Linked DNA regions of Homo sapiens: region 2 is linked to region 1. Evidence: fine-mapped expression QTL. A gene starts in region 1. The other region holds a variant in brackets. All regions are shown on one strand. Distances are between the middles of the regions. Region 1 holds the start of ESR2 (estrogen receptor 2). Region 2 overlaps ESR2 (estrogen receptor 2).

The links. PIP is the estimated chance that this variant, and not a neighbour inherited with it, causes the effect.
Region 2: its variant is fine-mapped to the expression of ESR2 in atrial appendage (GTEx, PIP 0.97).

The regions. Positions count from the first base shown.
Region 1 is chr14:64,289,677-64,299,712 of GRCh38, reverse strand. It overlaps ESR2 (estrogen receptor 2), which reads left to right and starts at 5,342. Exons shown (of 9, transcript NM_001437.3): 1 at 5,342-5,680.
Region 2 is chr14:64,231,542-64,241,577 of GRCh38, reverse strand. It overlaps ESR2 (estrogen receptor 2), which reads left to right. Exons shown (of 9, transcript NM_001437.3): 8 at 6,428-6,608; 9 at 8,255-10,036. The coding sequence ends at 8,441. It overlaps LOC124903328 (a long non-coding RNA gene), which reads right to left. Exons shown (of 2, transcript XR_007064205.1): 2 at 6,391-6,716. Among named protein-coding and RNA genes, the nearest start is that of ESR2, 58 kb to the left of the region's middle. RefSeq lists enhancers at 5,465-5,734, 6,375-6,434, 9,098-9,167. The variant C/A (reference allele first, on the strand shown) is at 4,703.

The sequences.
Region 1 (10,036 bases):
ACGCTCTGTGCACAAAAAATCAAGTCTGTATTTTTATAAAAGCCATTTCTGGGCTGGGCGCGGTGGCTGACGCCTGTAATCCCAGCACTTTGGGAGGCGGAGGCGGGTGGATCAGGAGGCCAGGAGATCGAGACCATCCTGGCTACCACGGTGAAACCCTGTCTCTACTAAAAAAATACAAAAAAATTAGCCGGGTGTGGTGGTGGGTGCCTGTAGTCTCAGCTACTTGGGGGGCTGAGGCGGAAGATTGTGCCACTGCACTCTAGCCTGGGCGACAGAGCGAGACTCCGTCTCAAAAAAAAAAAAAAAAAAAGCTATTTCTGTAATGAGCATCACTGGAGAGTTAGTTGCTATGGGTCTAAAGGACAATATGAGGCAGTTATAGTAACTTTCCATGATATGAACAAAGAAATTGAAAATGTTAGATACATTTACAAGAAGATGTAGAAAAAACTTTAGTCAAAATTTTTGAAATATTTTTTGAAATATTAAACTATGAAATCAGACAGTCTTATCTATGGTCTCAAGCCATGTCTGTCTGTACCTTTTTTTTTTTTATCTCATTTCAGGGAATATTACACTGGCTGACTTATTAATATCTTCTGAGCCAGAAAATGTAAGGAAGCTGCATTTTCAGAATTGCATTTGAGTCATTTGTGAAATTGCATATTACAATTTGCCGCCATTTCTAACAGTCCTATAACTTTTTTTTTTTTTTTTCTTAACTGGGTGTTCACATTCATGCCAATGACCTCTAGGGGCTAGTTTCTCTTCTAGCTCAAGAGAATTGCTGCAGAGTTGGAAGTAAGGACAAAAATGTGTATGCTTCATGTTTGATTTCAAATGCATAGAAAATTAGAAACTTAAGGTATGCAAGGGATTTGTGTGGAATTTAAGTACCTTTGAGGGGCAGTGGACAGGACAAAAAGTTATTTTTTACCTGTTTGTTTACAAATAGCAAAGATCAAGACTGAAACACATGAGTGTGATTTAGAAAGAGTTGGCTGCAGGTGCTGCTTGCTCAGGTGGTTCATTTAAACTGCAGGTCAGAGCAACCTTGTCTCATGGTCCTGGTGCCCAGGTATCAGGTTGGGTCTGTCTTGCTGCTTATGTCCTTGTTACCCTCTGAGGGCCCCAGTCCAACGCAGATCAATAAAGAATAAGTTACATAAATATGCTCATAGGTGGTCATTCCTAGACAAGAAATTGACAACATTTCATTCAACAGTATCTGGGCTCTACAGGACAGACATGCCTCCATTTATGCAACAAATAAGAACAGCATCTCATGACAGTGGAGAAAACATGGGATGTGCAGGTAGGTAGGTAAAGTTGGGTGGAAACTTTCACCCTACCAAATGCACATGGGTGACTTTATAAAATAAATGTTAGCTCTCTGAGCCTCAGTTTTCCCATCTGTAAAATAGACAGTCCCAGGGAATTTTCAAGGATTAAATGAAATAAAAGTGAATCAACCTATGCAAGCCTGCCTACTGTGGTGTCCAGGCTAGAAAAATGCTCAATAAATATTAGGTTTGTTTTTATTTCTACAAAAGATGTGATCCTAAAGAGCTCTATCCAAATTCAAGTTTCAAATGTCAAATCACATTTTGTGAACTTTATGTTCAGTTGAGATGATCTCTGACATATTAATTAGTAATCCTATCTTTTTCATTCATCACCACCAAAAAAAGGTGTTATTGCACGTTCAATTAATCTTTCCCCTTTATTAATTCCATAAGTGTAGGGTTTTATCTCTCAGATTCTCTTAAAACAGACCAATTTATACCCACATAATATAAATAAGCTTGTTCCTATAACACTCTGGAGCAGATAACTATCCCAGAACCCAAATCCTCCTACTTGGCTTCAAGCTCAGAGAATAAAGCAACAATCCAAAGGCACCCTTTGGCATGACACCCTTCTAGACATCTGTAGCATTCCTCCTTTCCCTCCACTTTTCCTATTAGCTTTTGCTTTCTTGCCTTTTACAGGGTTTTGTTTTGCCTCTTGGTAGTTTCTTTCCTACGGAAAATTCTCCCTCTGATCTTTCCAAGTCAAAGGCTTCAGCAAACATTTGTTGAACGCGTGGATTGTGCTAGGTGGGTGTTATGGACCATGGAGAATGCTAGAGATGTAAGACATGCGCTGTCCAATCGCAGCGCAGGTTGTGTTGACAGGTAAGATGAGGGCTGTGGGGGAGCCAATGTGCACGTTCCACTGGGCTAATGTGCTCTTCACCTTATTTAGGCTCTTGGCTTTGGGATGTGTAAGACTTTGCTAGACAGAGAAGGGGTGGGGTGAGAAGATGAGGAAGGTGCACCTTTTATGGAGAGGCTTTCCTTCCTCTTCACAGCAAACCATACCTGTACTACATTGACTTCCTTTGCTTTCCCAGGTGACATCTAGCTCATGCTGCAAGCTCATCTTGTTAATCATAAATGCTAGTAAGTTAATATTACCCATCATATATAACATGACTTAATTTTAACAATTCAATGCTTTATCCCCAAAAGATGACTTAATGGTGACAATTTCAATCCCCATTGTAGGATATTTTGGAGACAGGCAGTCCTTTCAATGTCATATGTGGGTGCTTCCTTAGGCAGGTCAGGGGTGAGGTGGAAATGAGGCTGGGACCCTGCTCACTTATATAGCAGGCATCGTTCTCAATACCAGGCTTCAGGGGGCTTTTTGGTCTAGCCATTGGTATGAACTGCCTCAAGAATAATCCCTTCATCATTGTGGTCACAATTCAGGTAGAATTGGAATAATCATCCTCTCCACTCTGCATTAAACCAGGCAAAGTTTCCATCTCTGGGTACCATTGTCTTTCTTGATGGACAGGGTGAGTCAGAAGGAAACTTACTCACTCCCATTCATTTTCTGCTTATTATTTCCTGCAGTGAGGTTTCCTTGTATAATAAACAGCTTCTGTGGGTGTTTGAGCTGCTCTGAAAAGAGAACATGCTGTTCCTGTGTGTAGAATGCCTTCTGAAGGAAGCATCACAGTGAACACAGAGCAGAAGCTTGGCACACAGGTGGCAGAAGTTTGTCTGCAGTGTTCTGCATAGAGCAGAGAGTCAAGCCATTTTCATTCTGATTGATTGGAGGCATGGTATGGAGGTAAATGGGTCCTTGGCCTCTCTCCTGGATTCAAGTCCTTCTTAGCCACTGATAGGTCATGTGACCATAGGGAGGTTGTTTAACCTTCCTGAACATTCATTTTCTCAAGTATAAAATGGGGGTAATAGAATTTGCCTTATAGGCTTGCGTATAAAATAAGAATTATTGAGAGAAAGCGGGGCATAAATGTCCAATAAGCGGTAGCTGTCTATGAAGCCACTGTTGTTACTGGGTTCCTTTCTCACTAGGTGGCTTCAGGTAGCTGACAGAAGCTCTGTGAGCCTCAATTTCCTCACTGGAAAAGTGGAGTCAATATCTCACTGAGCTGGTGTGAGGATTAAATGAGATGCTGTGCAGGTGCTTAGCACAGCGTCAGGTATGATGTTAATATTGATAGATGCATTTTCTTCACCCTCACCTATCTTTTTCTGCCTGTTGGCTTATGGTTGAAATTCCTTCATGACGGTTTCCATTTCCAGAGATATCTTGTTAACAAGTATATACCACCAAATGAAGCTGATTTTTTTTTTTTTTTTTTTTTTTGAGACAGAGTCTCGCTCTGTCGCCCAGGCTGGAATGCAGTGGCGCGATCTTGGCTCACTGCAACCTCCGCCTCCCATGTTCAAGCGATTCTCCTGCCTCAGCCTCCTGAGTAGCTGGGATTACTGGCATGTGCCACCACGTCCAGCCAATTTTTGTATTTTTAGTAGAGACGAGGTTTCACCATGTTGGTCAGGCTGGTCTCAAACTCCTGACCTCGTGATCCACCTGCCTCGGCCTCCCAAAGTGCTGAGATTATAGGTGTGAGCCACCATGCCTGGCCATGAAGCTGATTTTTTTAAACCATCATTTAACATTTTCTCCATAAGGTGGCAAGGAGGAAGAGCATATGGGGACTGGGTACTTTGAGAGACCCCAGGACAGGAGACAGGGAGGCTGAGATTGGCATGTTGTCTGCTGCAGTTATTTGCCAGCGACACACTCTTCCCGTCCAAACTAACTTCTCTGCCTCAAGGACAGGGAGACTCTGCCTTTCAACCTGAGAGAAACCAGGACTCTCAGCTTTAATGAAAATTGGACTTAGGGTGGGGCAGTGGAGACTTTTCACAGCTATTGTTTAGCTGATGAAGCAGATGCTTCTCCATCTTTGGAGCCTGTCTTCATTACCTGTGGACCTCATCTTTATCAACCCAGAGCACACTTGCGTCTCTCTATTTTGGCTAAACACCAAACAGCTGAGGCTGGTACTGTAAAACTTTCCCTCCAAATGCCCCCCCTCGTCTTCCTCTATTAGAGATCTGGATCACAACCCTCAAAAACCATGTCCCTTATGCCACCTGAGTAGATGGTTTGATGATTAATTAGGCACAGATGTGACACTGGGGGGTTCTCACAATGGCCTGTGGGTCACATGCTACTTTCCTTTTCATTTTCATCAGCAACAGCTGCCTTAAAGCCAGTTAAGACTGTGGTCCTAGTCTCGCACCCTGGGGCTCCTGCTGGGGTGGGTGAGGGGAACACCCCATTAAGCTGGGGGAACTGGGGCTGCCACCAGGGGGCGCGAGGGGCCTTCGCCCGAGAAGAGGGGTGGGCAGGTGCCTCCAGCGGAGAAGGGCGCCGTGGCCGGAGGCACAGGTCTCCCCGGTGCCACTTCAAGTGAGTTCGAGGAAGTACCTGGGATCTTTGATCTAACGCGAAAGGCCTTCCCAGTGACCTCTTGAGAGCTGAGAACCCACTCCCTCCACCTCTAGTCCACGGCTTTGCCACTCCAGGGCCCGAGGTTACGTTTGCTGCTGGGGATTTGACAAACCCAAAGCCTCTCTGGTTTCACCACTGGCTCCTTAGAATCAGACATCTGTTCTGAATGACACTTATGTGAGTCAGGGGCTGAGGACGTGATCCTCGAAGTGTGGTCCCCAGACTGGCTGTATCAGTGTCGGCATCCCCCAGGACCTGGTTGGAAATGCATATTCTCAGGCCCTACTCCAGACCTCTTAAATCTGAGACTGGGGCTGCGGGGAGCGCCATCTGTGCGCCACTATCCTTGTGGGTGGACCAGGAGTCGGTTCGAGGGTGCTCCCACTTAGAGGTCACGCGCGGCGTCGGGCGTTCCTGAGACCGTCGGGCTCCCTGGCTCGGTCACGTGGGCTCAGGCACTACTCCCCTCTACCCTCCTCTCGGTCTTTAAAAGGAAGAAGGGGCTTATCGTTAAGTCGCTTGTGATCTTTTCAGTTTCTCCAGCTGCTGGCTTTTTGGACACCCACTCCCCCGCCAGGAGGCAGTTGCAAGCGCGGAGGCTGCGAGAAATAACTGCCTCTTGAAACTTGCAGGGCGAAGAGCAGGCGGCGAGCGCTGGGCCGGGGAGGGACCACCCGAGCTGCGACGGGCTCTGGGGCTGCGGGGCAGGGCTGGCGCCCGGAGCCTGAGCTGCAGGAGGTGCGCTCGCTTTCCTCAACAGGTGGCGGCGGGGCGCGCGCCGGGAGACCCCCCCTAATGCGGGAAAAGCACGTGTCCGCATTTTAGAGAAGGCAAGGCCGGTGTGTTTATCTGCAAGGTAAGCGCCCCTTCGCTCGAGGTGTGGTTTAATTGTCTCATTTTGTTTGAAATCCTGCGGTGAGAAACCAGTCGTGTTGAGAACAATAAAAGACCAAAAAACGATCACCAAAACCAACTGTCCTGAAAGCTACTGGAAAGTTGGAAAATGCATGCTTTGATTAAATGTCTTCATTCAAGACACTGGCAAGTTAACTTATTTAGTTTGTGCCGTGAGCTCTGGGTTGATTGTGCTAATATGAATAACTGAAAAACATTTTATTTCCCTATGGTTTTCCTCGATGGACTTCCCCACTATGGGTGAAATGACAATGGAGTTGAATACACTTTCTGATTGAACTTTGAGGGCCTGGGAAGATGTACACGTCTCAGGCAAGATGATAGGGGTTTTAAAATGTATTAATTGGCATTCCTTAGCCATGTCAGCAAGCTGCGTTCCTCCTTTCCTGGGCAGACCAAGCTAAGCTCTAACTGGTCTCCTTTATTTGCTGAAGAGGAGTCCAACAACTGCCCTCTAACACCCTGCGTGTTATTCTTATTGGAAGGACAATATTAAGTCAAGTGAATGTCATTTTTGTGAAAAAACTTTGAGTGGACTTCTATTTAGGAAGATAAGGTTGATTTAATTTTACTCGCTGTTTAAAAAGCAGGATTGTGTTTTGGTGTGGTAGGCAACATTTTGGAGGACAGACTTTGCCTTATTTTGTTATATTTCTAGTATTTACATGGGCATTCCATTAGAAAGTTTTACTTTTGCTCTAAGTTTCGTAACTCGGTGTCTAGTGAGGGGAAACATGTTTGTAATTTAAAAAGTGAACATGTGAAAGGAAAGGCTTTTCTGAGAGTGTTGTAAAACAAATGTAACGTGACTATGAAAAGAACATGATTAACATCTTTGACTCCTATTTTTTCTGAAGAAAATGTATTTTGATATGAGTTCTAGAAGAAGGAAACTATAAGGATCTGTTCATCAACAGGCATTAGAGTATACACCGTAGGATTGCATTTTACGTTCAAGCATTTTTTTAGATGAATTTCTGAAACATTCTTATTTTAAAAGCCATCAGATGCTTGTTAACACTTAAGTCTTGCTCAAGACATAGAAGTTTCTGAAATCAATTAACATGTTTAGGACACATTTCGTAGTGTTCTGAGGGATGTGAATAAATCTAATCACAGTTTACATTTCTTAATGTATTTATAATTCAGAAAAGGTAGAATTTAGTAGTAAATTCAACTCATAACCATATAATTAACATTTAATAGATATTGATATGTTCACTTTTAAGAATAAGAAGGAAATTTTCTATAAGTGTATGTTGAACACATAATAATTCAAAATTCATGTGATAATTTTAGGTGATGCTTTGAGTCGTTTTATAGAATATAAATATGGATAAAATATAAAATACTGAAGGCTGAACTCAAAGTGTTTAATGATAAGTTTTTGATAATACATCTAGAAACCTTGAGAATTGTATGCTTGAACGTTAGATTTCATAATTCAGTGTCTAGCACATTGTTTTATATGCAATAGCACTTTAAAAAAATTAGGCTACAGCAGTATAATTTACATACAGTAAAATTTAGCCTCTGTAAATGTACCTCTATGAATTCTGACAGATGCACAGTCATGTAACCAGCACCGCACACATGACACAGAACAGTTCCATTACCCCAAAAGTCCCCTTTGTACCTCTACCTACCCCACTGCCCCTGAAAATCACTGATCAAAACTACATAATGATTATGTGGTTTTGCTCTTTAGTACGTTTTTACTTAGACATATTTTCCTTTACTTCTTTTGAAAGAAAAACCTGTTTTTCCCTTTTTATAGGATGAGTCAGTTTGTGCTATTTTTAATTCTAGTACCTTGGGATAAATCAAGGCAAAGACAATGCTATTTGCAAATGGGAAACTTGAGACTTGGACTAAGTGTTAAATTCATATAGGGCTAATAGATTTAGTTCTTAGCAGATTTAGATTCTATTGTGGTTTAAGCCTTTGGTTATGGCATATATCATTAGTTATCCTGAATTGAAATACAAGGCCATTAAAAGTTATTTATATCATATTAATAGAATGCATCATTCTTTTATAATCTTTGAATTTTAAAACTTCTTTATTAAAAAAAAAACTACTTTTCATTATACCTGAGATTAAGAAAGCTACCTGAAATTGCATATTATCAAATAGTGAGAAGCAAAACAGGGATTGAAAATGACAAATTGAAGACATTTAAAATGCAGAGTGATTACAATTGCTGAAGGTAAAATATTTATCTTCATAGGGGCTTAGGTCTGTGTCCAACTTATTTGTAGATGTCAGGATTTTTAAATTTCTGTGCTCATGTCTTGAAGTCTAGATTTTCCTGCAGGGTGGAGATGTATAACCTTTTGTAAACTAATATTTTTCACTGTTTAACACAGTATTCAATTCAGTATACAGTTAGGAGCCTGTTATTGGTAGGTACTGCTAACATATATATATATAAAATTGATGTCTTTTTCCTTTTTCCTTTGTTCTATGAAAAACAGCCTGTATTTTAAATATGTAACTTACCTTGCATACCCAGTTACAGTGGTAGTAACTAGGATATGCAGAGTGGCAAGTTTATGAGGAGCTAGCAAACTGGATAGTTGGCCTTCCTAGCTGGAATTATGACAGGTCTTGAAAATGAAGGGCTTTTAGTGGAGAATCTTTGTGTGGGTGTACTTGAGAGAGGGCAGGAGAGTTAGGGTGACCTAGAAAGATAGATTGCTGGACTTGTATATGTTTCCTCAAAGCCAGACTGCAGCATTTTGTTAGTAAATTGTTGTGTGTTCTACTGTCAAACCCAGGCCTGGAAGGGGAGTTGAGTGCATTCAGCCTAACTTCTGGATTGGCTGTGTCATCTTGAATCCCTTCACTCGGAATTCTCTCTGACCCTGTCCCAAATGAATATTTGAATTTGGTCCAGTTCCTACAGAGCATGGTCTGTGGCTGTTGTTGGTGTTAGGGAAGAGCAGAAACTTGCTGTTGAGAGAGAAGACACTTGAGAAGACTGATGAACTCTCTCCCACCCCTGCCTTCGAGGCTTGGTCCTCCTACCCTATTCAAACCCTTGAAACTCTTTCCTATCCAACTAAATAAGCGCCAATTGGTTACTAGGAGAATTAGCTTTTCCTCATTTTAGAAGGAAACAGGGTTTCCTTATGTACATGTTCTTAAGAATTACATGCAAATCAGTTATTAATGATGAGTTCTCTGGTGATTTTGGAGTGTTTTATCTTCCTAATATTAAATTAATTGAGGGCCTTAATATTTTGTTTTGAAAGAATATATTTAAAAAGGCTGGGTGTGGTGGCTCACGCCTGTAATCTCAGCACTTTGGGAGGCCTAGGTGGCTGGATCACTTGAGGGCAGGAGTTCAAGACCAGCCTGGCCAAATAATGAAACCTTGTCTCTGTTAAGAATACAAAAAATTAGCTGGCCATGGTGGCTCAAGCCTGTAGTCCCAGCTACTCAGGAGGCTGAGGCATGAGAATTGCTTGAACCTGGGAGGCCGAGTTTACAGTGAGCCGCGATCATGCCACTGCATTCCAGCCTGGGCAACAAAGCAAAACTCTATCTCTAAATAAATAAATAAATAAATAAATAAGAATACATTTAAAGATAATAATTGGCCAGGTGTGGTGGTTCATGCCTGTGATCACAGCACTTTGGGAGGCCGAGGTGGGAGGATTGCTTGAGGCAAGGAGTTCAAGATCAATCTGGGCAACACAGTGAGACCCTATCTCTACAAAAATTTAAAAATCAGCTGGGCATGATGGTGCATGCCTTTAGTCCCAGCTACTTGGGGGGCTGAGTTTGGAGGATCCCTTGAGCCCAGGAGATCAAGGCTGCAGTAGGCCATGATCTTGCCACTACACTCTAGCCTGAGTTACAGAGCTAGAGTATAACCCCCACCCCCCAAAAAAGCTAATAATTGTCAAACAGCTACTTATGCACATCAAGGATGCTTGTTGCTTAAGAAATCTTTTTAAATCTTTTCCATGAAATTCCTTCTAGTTGCTGCTTTGTGAGCGTGAATTTTTTACTTCTGCAGGACACACAAATGTGGAGCATTTGAACTGAATGCTTGGGAAAGTGTGATGGGCAGGTGGAAGAAGAATAGGGATGAGGACTTATCCTCTATTCTTATCCTCCTAGACTTATCCTCCTAGTCTGCAAGCTTGAGAATATGGCATCAGGAATATGTGGCATTTTGTCCACACACACAGTGTTGGCAGGCTACCAGCAGCCCAGCTATCTGGACTAGGGGTGATGGATTTCTGTGGACAGAAGTCAAAAAGTAAAATTAGGAGGCAAAAATCTT
Region 2 (10,036 bases), 58 kb after region 1:
AATAAATGGAGAGAGATGTTAATGGATCATAAGATTCAGTATTGTTTTCAATCTATAGATTCAAACTGATAAAAATCCCAGGAGGCTTTTTGGTAGAAATTGATAAGCTGATTCTTAAAATCATGTGAAAATGCAATGGACATAGAATAGTCAAAACAACTTTGAAAAAGAACAAACTGGGAGGACTTACACTACCTGATTTAGAAGATAATGTGGTATTGATGTCAACAGAAACAAATAGATCAATGGAACAGAGAGTCCAGAAATAATCTATACAACTACAGATGTTCCTCAATTTATGATGGGGTGATTTCCCAAAAAACCCATCTTAAGTTGAAAATATTGCTAGTCAAAAATATACTTAACACACCTAACCTACTGAACATCATAGCTTAGCCTAGCCTATCTTTTTTTTTTTTTTTTTTTTTTTTTGAGACGGAGTCTCGCTCTGTGGCCCAGGCGGGAGTGCAGTGGCGCAATCTCGGCTCACTGCAAGCTCCGCCTCCAGGGTTCACGCCATTCTCCTGCCTCAGCCTCCCCAGTAGCTGGGACTACAGGCGCCCACCATCACGCCCGGCTAATTTTTTTTGTATTTTTAGTAGAGACGGGGTTTCACCGTGTTAGCCAGGATGGTCTCGATCTCCTGATCTCGTGATCCGCCCGCCTCGGCCTCCCAAAGTGCTGGGATTACAAGCGTGAGCCACCGCGCCCGGCCAGCCTAGCCTATCTTAAATGTGTTCAGAATACTTACATTACCCTGCAGTTGGGCAAAATCATCTAATATAAAGCCTATTTTATAATACAGTAATGAACATTTCATGTAATTTATGGAATACTGAAAGTTACTGTACTGAAAAACGAAAAAACACAATGGTTGTATGTGTACTGGAAGTACAGTTTCTACTGAATGCAAAAACTTGCAGCTGAGTGTGTTCATTATCTTGGTTGTGGTGATGGCTCCACCATGTATATGTATGTCAAAGTACATCAAATCGTACACGCAAAATATGTGCAGGTTATTGCATGTCAGGTATACCTGGATGAATCTGTAAACAATGTAATGAAAGCAAAACAAAAAGATTAAGAGAGCAAAGTTTGTAGGCTAAATGGAAAAGAAATACCACCAAGCGGGGAACCAAATCACAGGGTGGAGGCCCTGGAGGATAAGGGTCAGGAGAGGAGAAATGGGGGTAGGTCTCTTAAGTCAAAAGGCTGCGAACTTCTCTATTCCATGTTAGGATAGCAGAGTTTCCAAGCGCTGCATTTGGTTGCTGCTAGATGGCCTTGCCAGGCTAGATAAGCATTGGGCTGTCTGACGATGGTCTCCTGCATAGTTTGGTCTCCTGTTTTCCTGTGTATGTGACATGCTTAAGTTAGGATTATGTCACTCAATCACATCTGCAGTGGTACAGCACGCTAGCTGGCCAGGTCGCGGTTTGTCAGTAGTCATGTTTTAAAAGCTGCCCATTTCTGGGTTATGCATATCTACTAATAATGGCTATAATATGGAATGGAAATTAACTGTGTCATCCAGCTAAATTTCAGCTCAGTTTCTGGTATGTATATTAATGACTTCTAAATACTAAGGATGTCAAAATGATTTAGATATAATGCTTTTGGTCTAGAATGGGATATATACTCAAATAGTTAATCAAAGGTCTGATCCATGGTGGGCTTAAGTGGAGAGGCACATATTTCTCTCTTGGGGAGGCAAGGGAAAGGACCACAACATTCTAACTCTCTCAGCCAATCCTCTTCCACTATGCATATATAGGTTGTGTGGTACTTGGAATTCCTGTATCATACTTAGCCTTTGATATGGCTCTTGAGAGTAAGAGACAACAGAAAAATGTTGCATTTAACAACCTGTTACAATGCTTGTTAGAGTGTTTTTATAAACTCTAAGGTGTTATGCAAGTGTCATAGTTAATAAAATAGCCTACCCAACACCCAACAGACAGACTGGCCATCTTGCCACCCAAATCCTCCCTTGGATAGAATTAGAGGGGGTATGGAATTTAGGAATTAGAGTGTAATTAATTACATTGATTATCCATAGTCTTTAAAATATTTTAAATTAGAAACAAGTCTATTTAAACAGTTTTAAGATTTACAAAGGATGAAACTTTTCATTAAATGAAAGAAATAGAGGGGTTAAGCCAGGAAATCCTATTTTACATTAAGAAAATTATTAAGAGACACTGGCTTAAACCCTAGTTCCCTCTGAGTTTATAGGGAGAGTTCCCATGGAGTGGGTGGGTGGAGAAGACAAAGACATAGATGGATGCTGATGAGGAAAGATGCGGGGGTCCTTTTCTGTTGACCAAGAACACTGGGGCAAAGCACAGTTGAACAGCAGCCTGCAGCCTCACACCATGGCACCTTTTGAGTCCCATCTGCCCTCATGTGCTGGGGGCAGGAGGTGGTGACAGAGGGCGTGGGTCATGGCCAGAGGTTCCTTTCCTCAAAGCAAACAAGCAAACGCCACATACGGCTCCCCAAAGCCAGGACTTCTTCCCTTTGGTCAGTATTCTGGGACTTCTATTAGCACATTAGATTTTTCTCATTTATTTGCCTTCAGTCAAGGAAAGCTTATGTTTTCATCCTTTGAACAAATCAGACGTGGCAAATCTTGAAGGAGAGGTGGCTGTCCCCCACCACTGTGCTGCTCAGAATGTCACCAGGTGGGCTGGTGAGAGGAGCACACAGCTGTTCCCAGCTGATAAAGGGGAGAGAAGATTGTGTCCTTGATTTTATTTCACTTTCTTTGGTATGTGTGAGGCATGGTGCCAAGATCTTGGTTTTTTTTGTTTTTTTTTTTTAAACTATACTTCTTCCGTTTCATCAAAAGTAATTTAATTTTGTTTTACAGTGAATCCTAACTGATGTTTTTACTTTTGGGGGATGGAGAGGGTGCTATATTTTTGTGGTTTTCTGTGCCTGACTGGGCAGAGCTTTGGATCTTGTCCCTTGCCCCATGCTGCCCAGGGCCTGCCACTTAGCAAGTACTCTGTAGATATGTATTTGATGAGCAAGGGCCTGAGCATGGATGTCTGAGGTGCAGGCACGCACTGCTGACTGGAGAGCCAGGCAGCAGCATGGGTATTCTTCAGCACAGTTCTTTTCTGGGAGGGTATTTCTTTTCTATGTGATCAATGAGAACAGGAGTCTCCAGGATAATTTTATGTAAGTCAGTCTTTTTGTATATACACTGCCCCCCTACCCCACCATATGTAAAATGGATTTCGCATATGCCTTTCCACAACTGCAGTGCCTCACCTCCCCAAACCGCTGTGGCTGATGGACTCTGGGCCCCAGGTGGAGCTGTGCTGCCCCTACAGCCTGCAGAAGGCCCAGGGTCTGGCCTTGGCAATGACTGTGGTTCGTGAAGTGGGTAACACAATGACACATACGTGTTCTCTGAGGGGAAACTTCGTTGCACACAGCCCAGGGAATTTATGTTATTGTAACTTTGGTTCTGAGGCGTTCTTTTATTATTATTATTACTATTATTTTTAGTAACAGCTTTATTGTGATATAATTCATTTACCATATAATTTATCCATATTAAGTATACAGTTCAATGTTTTTAGTTTATTCACGGTATGTGGTGCAACCATCACCACCATCAATTTTAGAACATTTTCATCACCTGAAAAGAAACCCCATGCTTCTTAGCCATCATTTCCCACTCCCTATCCCACCCACAGCCCTAGGCAACCACTAATTTGCTTTTCTGACTCTATGGATTTGCCTATTCTAGACATTTTATTATAAATGGAATCATACAACATGTGGTCCTTTGTGTCTGGCTTATTTTGCTTAGCCTGATGTTTTCAAGGTTCATCTGTATCAGTACCTCATTCCTTTTCGTAGCTGAATACTATTCCACTGTATGGATAGACCACATTTTGTTGAGCCATTCGTCAGTTAGTGGACATTCCACTTTTAGGCTGAGTTATGCTGCTATGAACATTTGTTTATAATCTGAGGATTTGTTTTTATATTTTCAATCTTTGTCACTTTGAACTGAGACATGTACAGGCACACAATTTTGGCTCCTTTTGGAATTCCCAGACATAGTATTGCTTGATGGCAGCGGAAGTCCATGGAGCACATGTCATGCAGCTGAACACACTACGGGGTAGTTAAAAGGAAGTACTTGTTTATGCAGATGGGGTTAATTTTAGGGAAAGTAAGCTTGAAATAATTTTCTCTGTACTTTTGATAATTTTCTGTGTGTACCTAAAACATACATTAGCATGCATATTTACCATTTCAAATATGATGTGTGTTTGGCTAAAAAAAATAAGGGTCTGGCCGGGCACAGTGGCTCACGCTTGTAATCCCAGCACTTTGGGAGGCTGAGGCAGGCGGATTGCGAGGTCAGGAGTTTGAGACCAGCCTGGCCAGCATGGTGAAACACTGTCTCTACTGAAAATACAAAAAATTTGCTGGGCATGGTGGCGCATGCCTGTAATCCCAGCTACTAAGGAGGCTGAGGCAGGAGAATTGCTTGAAACCGGGAGGCGGAGGTTGCAGTGAGCTGAGATTGTACCACTGCACTCCAGGCTGGGTGACAGAGTGAGACTCTGTCTCAAGAAAAGAAAAAAAAAAAAAGGTCTGTGCCCTCAAAGCACTCATGTCCAGTCTTGCTGAGGGCAGAAGGGTGGCTGTGGGGTGTGTGTGGGGACAAGGCAGA[C/A]ATCCAGCATGTGGGGCAACATGGTGTCTCTGCTGAGGATGAACAGGGCACTGTCAGAGTATCAGGGGACACCTCAGACCAGACTTAGGGTGGGATGGTAGGGAGGTTGGGGGAAGCTTCCAGAAGGAATTTCTGACCAGGTTGGAATCTACAGGAGGAATGGGTATAAATGAGCAAAAGAATCAGGGTAGAGAAAGAGGAAGGAGAGAGTTTCCAAGCAGCAAGTTGAGCATGTTCGGAGCACCACACATTCAGGGAGTTGAGAGGGGGACTCAAGGCGAGGTGTGGTGGGAACTGCAGATGAGAGAAGCGGGGAGGGCCCTGGTACCTCTGATAGCTGCACCAGGTGGTTTGGACTCTATCCTATGAGCTGGGAAGTCATTAAACGGAGCCCCATGAGCAGATCTGCTTTTTGGCCTCTCAGAAGGGGACACACGGGGCCAAGGGTGGGGTCTTGTTTCCCCTGCGGTGGGAGGGCAAGTCATCTCTGGGGCGACAGTGGGAGGTTTGAGGCTGTGGGGGGATTCTGGAAGAACCAATGTGGAGAACAAAGTGAGCACAGGGATTGGAGAAGCAGCTTCAGGGCTATTGAAAAGATGAATATTTTAAATTCGTATCATCAGACATTATGGAGGTCCCTAGGGATGTGGCAAAGCACTACACTTACGTAATTGTGCTTCAGAATGTCCCTTGCCTTACCTGAGTTAAACTTAGTTGAATTGAGCTGCCTTAATTGAACTGAAAGTGCCAATAAAAATAGAGAACAAAAACTGCCAAAACAAATTCTGTGGTTGCTGGAGCACCAGCCATCATCAGTCTCATGACAGCCAAGACTCAGCAGCTCCCTGGTTGATTTCACATATTTATTCTTGCTTTGAAATGGAAAGCCTGGAAGAGAAGCTAATTATTAAAGGGAATCAAGGAGTCAGGCAGGGGTCGGGGGGAGGAGATTTATCTGAGCTGTTACTTTGCTGCCATTGGGATGCCACAGTATCTCAATCCTAGAGTTGGAGGGGAGTTAAACACAGGGCAGGGCAGGATGGGGGAGGCAGCCTACCCAGGACGTGGCTGTGGGGACCTAAGCAGATGTGTTCCTGCATGCGTTGCTCAGTGAGGAACTGAGGCTCAGAGAGCTCCAGATGGTGGCTAGAAAGTAGGTCTGTCTGACTCCAAATCAGTGGTCTTCCTGCCCCAGCCAGGTGCCACTCAAGCGAGATGCAGAGGTGGTAGCAGGGGCCCTGCCATGGCTGGCTGCGGCACGTGGTACACACAAGGAGGTGGCAGAGGAGGCTTCATCACATTGGCCATTCCTTTGTTTATTAAACTCCCTTTAGATGGGGAGCCCTCCGTGGGGCTAAAAGTAGAATTAATCTCACTTTCTGACCATCTCTGTATCTGTTGCTGCAGATGAGAAACACCACGTAATGATTTCGGGAGACTAGATATACTCGCCACGGCAAGGCCACAATTATGGGCCTGGTGGACACTTCAGGTGGCAATTTAGTCTGTCTGCATTAGGCCAGGCTTCTCTTCTAGCTCTGTGACGGGGCTGGCTCTCAGGGAAGATCCCCTGGGGGAGGTAAGACCATGCTTATAAGCTCCTGCCACACATGCAGCTGTCAAAGCAACCCAGATCACCTCGGAGCAGGCGCACGGAACAGCTGAGCACACGACTTCTGCTCCTTTGCTCAGAGCAATGACTTCTGGCTTTTATTCTTTGTCCAGGTATGTACCCTCTGGTCACAGCGACCCAGGATGCTGACAGCAGCCGGAAGCTGGCTCACTTGCTGAACGCCGTGACCGATGCTTTGGTTTGGGTGATTGCCAAGAGCGGCATCTCCTCCCAGCAGCAATCCATGCGCCTGGCTAACCTCCTGATGCTCCTGTCCCACGTCAGGCATGCGAGGTACGCGCCCTAAGGAGCTGCTCTGCTTGGGCTTGGGATGGGATTATGTGCTCCACGGAGGGTGAAGTGATTTGGGAAAAGTGTCTGCAAGTTAAGGAAAATGAATGCCTGAAAGGGAATGGGGAATTTGTCAGTTCACACACCTGTAAGCAAAGATGGGCACAGAGTGGGCATGGAAGGAATGTCATGTGGTATCTTACAGGCTCTGCATGGCAGCCAGTGGTGGCTCATGGGTTTTTCAATTGCTGGGGTTTATAGCCTGTTTATGGAGTCCTAAAAGGGGCAGTTCCTCCCCTAACACGAACTGCCACCCCTGTTTACACCACCCAGGGCTGAGGCCCTGAGGCCACTTTTTGTGGAGAGGCTAAGACCCGCTCCCCTAGATGGCCCCTCGAGCTGGTGATGCGAAGAAGTGCACAAATGCTTCCCTAAGAGTTGTTCTTTCGGTGGCATCAGGAAATTAAGGATAAGACTTAAGAGAAGTGGTGGACCCAGCAGATTTAGGAAGGCAGGGCTGTAGGTAGGGCATGTTTCTGATCAGGAAACGTAATTGTGTGTGCTGATGAAGAGGGTGTGCAGTGGTGGCTACTGTTGGTACAATGATGCTCAGTGCTTGGTGTCACCCACGATGAGGGTAGCCTTGCCCTGGAGCTGGAGGAGGGGAGGGGAGGGTGGAAGGTAATTAACTGGTCACTGAGGAGGCAAGTCTAGAGGCTGTGGAGAAGGACAATATACACCTCGAGAATCTTAAGTGAGATGAAGACCTCTGCCTTTCCCCTTTAATGATTGCTCAGCACATAGCCATTTGCAGAACAGATCCTGTGTTTGTAGATTCCTTCATTGTGAATTTATCTGCTTGCTAAAATTTATTTGTAACCCCAAAATCAATATTTGTGGTGTTTTTGAGGTCATGAACAGAGTGGCAGAAATTTTGAGTTGCCCTTTATGTACAGTCCCAGCTGAGATGGAACAAGCAGCTGCTCTCATACTGTCAACAAGTGTCCTTTACTTGGTCTACTTAGTGCCATGGTTTTACATTTTTGTGCTTTTGGTGACTTCACTGTTTAAAATGCCCCCCTGGTGTGGTGCTGAAGACCTGTCTAGTGTTCCTCGGTGTGAAAAAGCTGTGATGTGCCTTATGGAGAAAGTATGTGTTAAGCTTTGCTCGGGTGTGAGTTATAGTGCTGCTGGCCATGAGTTCAATGTTAATGAGTCAATGGTATTTATCACATAAGGCATCTTTAGAAAGAAACACACATAAAACAAGGTTTTGTATTGATCAGCTGATGAAGATGTGGCCAGAGGCTTGCAGGAACCTAACCCTGTATTTCCCCTATGAGTGAGGATTCAGTGTTCACAGTGACTTTACGGAACATAATTACCGCAAACAATGAGGATTGATTGTCCTATGTGTCAGGCCATTGTAGGTGTGTGGTGGGACACAGAGGCTGACAAGACATCGTCCTTGCCCTTGAGCCTAAATTATCAGGGGGAGCTGGATGCACGAGCCATGGATAAATGGGCTGGGGGAAGAGTGGGTTTAGGGGTGGGGTAGACTGGCTCTGAGCAAAGAGAGCCGGGGAAGGCTTCGGGGTTCCTGTGGCTGCCTCGGAGGAGGGAATCTCAGCACCTTTTTGTCCCCATAGTAACAAGGGCATGGAACATCTGCTCAACATGAAGTGCAAAAATGTGGTCCCAGTGTATGACCTGCTGCTGGAGATGCTGAATGCCCACGTGCTTCGCGGGTGCAAGTCCTCCATCACGGGGTCCGAGTGCAGCCCGGCAGAGGACAGTAAAAGCAAAGAGGGCTCCCAGAACCCACAGTCTCAGTGACGCCTGGCCCTGAGGTGAACTGGCCCACAGAGGTCACAGGCTGAAGCGTGAACTCCAGTGTGTCAGGAGCCTGGGCTTCATCTTTCTGCTGTGTGGTCCCTCATTTGGTGATGGCAGGCTTGGTCATGTACCATCCTTCCCTCCACCTTCCCAACTCTCAGGAGTCGGTGTGAGGAAGCCATAGTTTCCCTTGTTAGCAGAGGGCACATTTGAATGCAGCGTTTCCACACTCAATGGCCTCATAGGATCTCAGTGTGGTCTTTCTTACTTTCCTTCTTCCTTCCTCCCCTTTGTGAAACATCTTAAAGGTTTTGGAATGAATGGTGGAAATCTGACTTGGAAGGGCTGCGAATCAGAAAGGGGAGAGGAAGTGACACGCTTACAGAAGTGGGCTAACCCTTCTTGTGTGGCACACACTACCCTTCCCTCTGAGAGTTGACCTTTGCTGTTTTCCGGACCACTCCATTGTAAGATTGAAAACCCCTGTGGCAATTGCGTACTTACCTCCCAGGCCTGTGGGGACTGATCATATCATATGATGCTTATTCTGTCAAAGGCCAGAGGGACTGTGGTTAAGCTGGGATGTGAGTCATGTTCTCTCCCTGACCTTGCTGCCAGCTGCACACAGATTTGTCCCTCTCGATTTGTATTCACAGAGCCTGCCAATAATTTGGGGTATGTGTGTATGAGCGTGTGATCATTTTCATGCAGGACTGTGGGAGATACAAATCTCGCTGCTTCTGGAGCTGCTCTTCCTTAAACCTGTTGTCCCATGGGGCCAGCGTGGGTGCTGGAGAAAGGCCGTGTTTGCAGGAATGGGGTTCTCTCCTGTGGGTGTGGGTGACAGCCACAGTGTTTCCCTGGGGCAATGTGGATGCAGTTTCCATCTTGTACAACCTCATAAGTAGCAGCCACAATTGCCCCATCAGTCACCACAAGTAGTCAGGGATACTTTGGGCTGTGGATGTGTGCAGTGTGCTGTTTTATGGATGGATGAGTAGCTATGCACCCCAGTGTGTCAGCTCTGGGGCCACACTGTATAGCCTTGATGAGTACGCCCCTTGAACAAGACCCAGTTTGTGAACTCTCCTTAAAGAGAAATATTTAGGGATAATTATTTATAGCAAGAAAGAATTCTTTTACACTTGAGAGCTCTTTTAAAAATATTTTCTTATTGGAAAATTTATATGGTGGGCAGGGTGAAAAAGAAACAGTAAAAATATTAGTTCTTATTCCAAGTGGAACATAAATAGGACATGAAGAAGGGCACCTCTGAAATGACAACTTTAACTCACCTTTTAAAAGATGTGAAATTTCCAGTTTTGGATACACGGTGAATATGTAAAATGAGTAACAGCATACTATGGAAGCCAGCAATTAAATAATCATGTTTCATTATTGCAGTAACGTTTTAAACAATTACCTTGTGATATGATATTAAATATATTTTCTTTTTGAAAATATGTTCACTTTGGGTAGCACATCCTGTATTTACTAAGTCATTAGGAAGACTGCATTCAGTGTTACCAAGACTGGTTTTTGCTAGTAAGACCTCGAATAATCCATAATTTTGATATTGGTGCAATTTTACTATA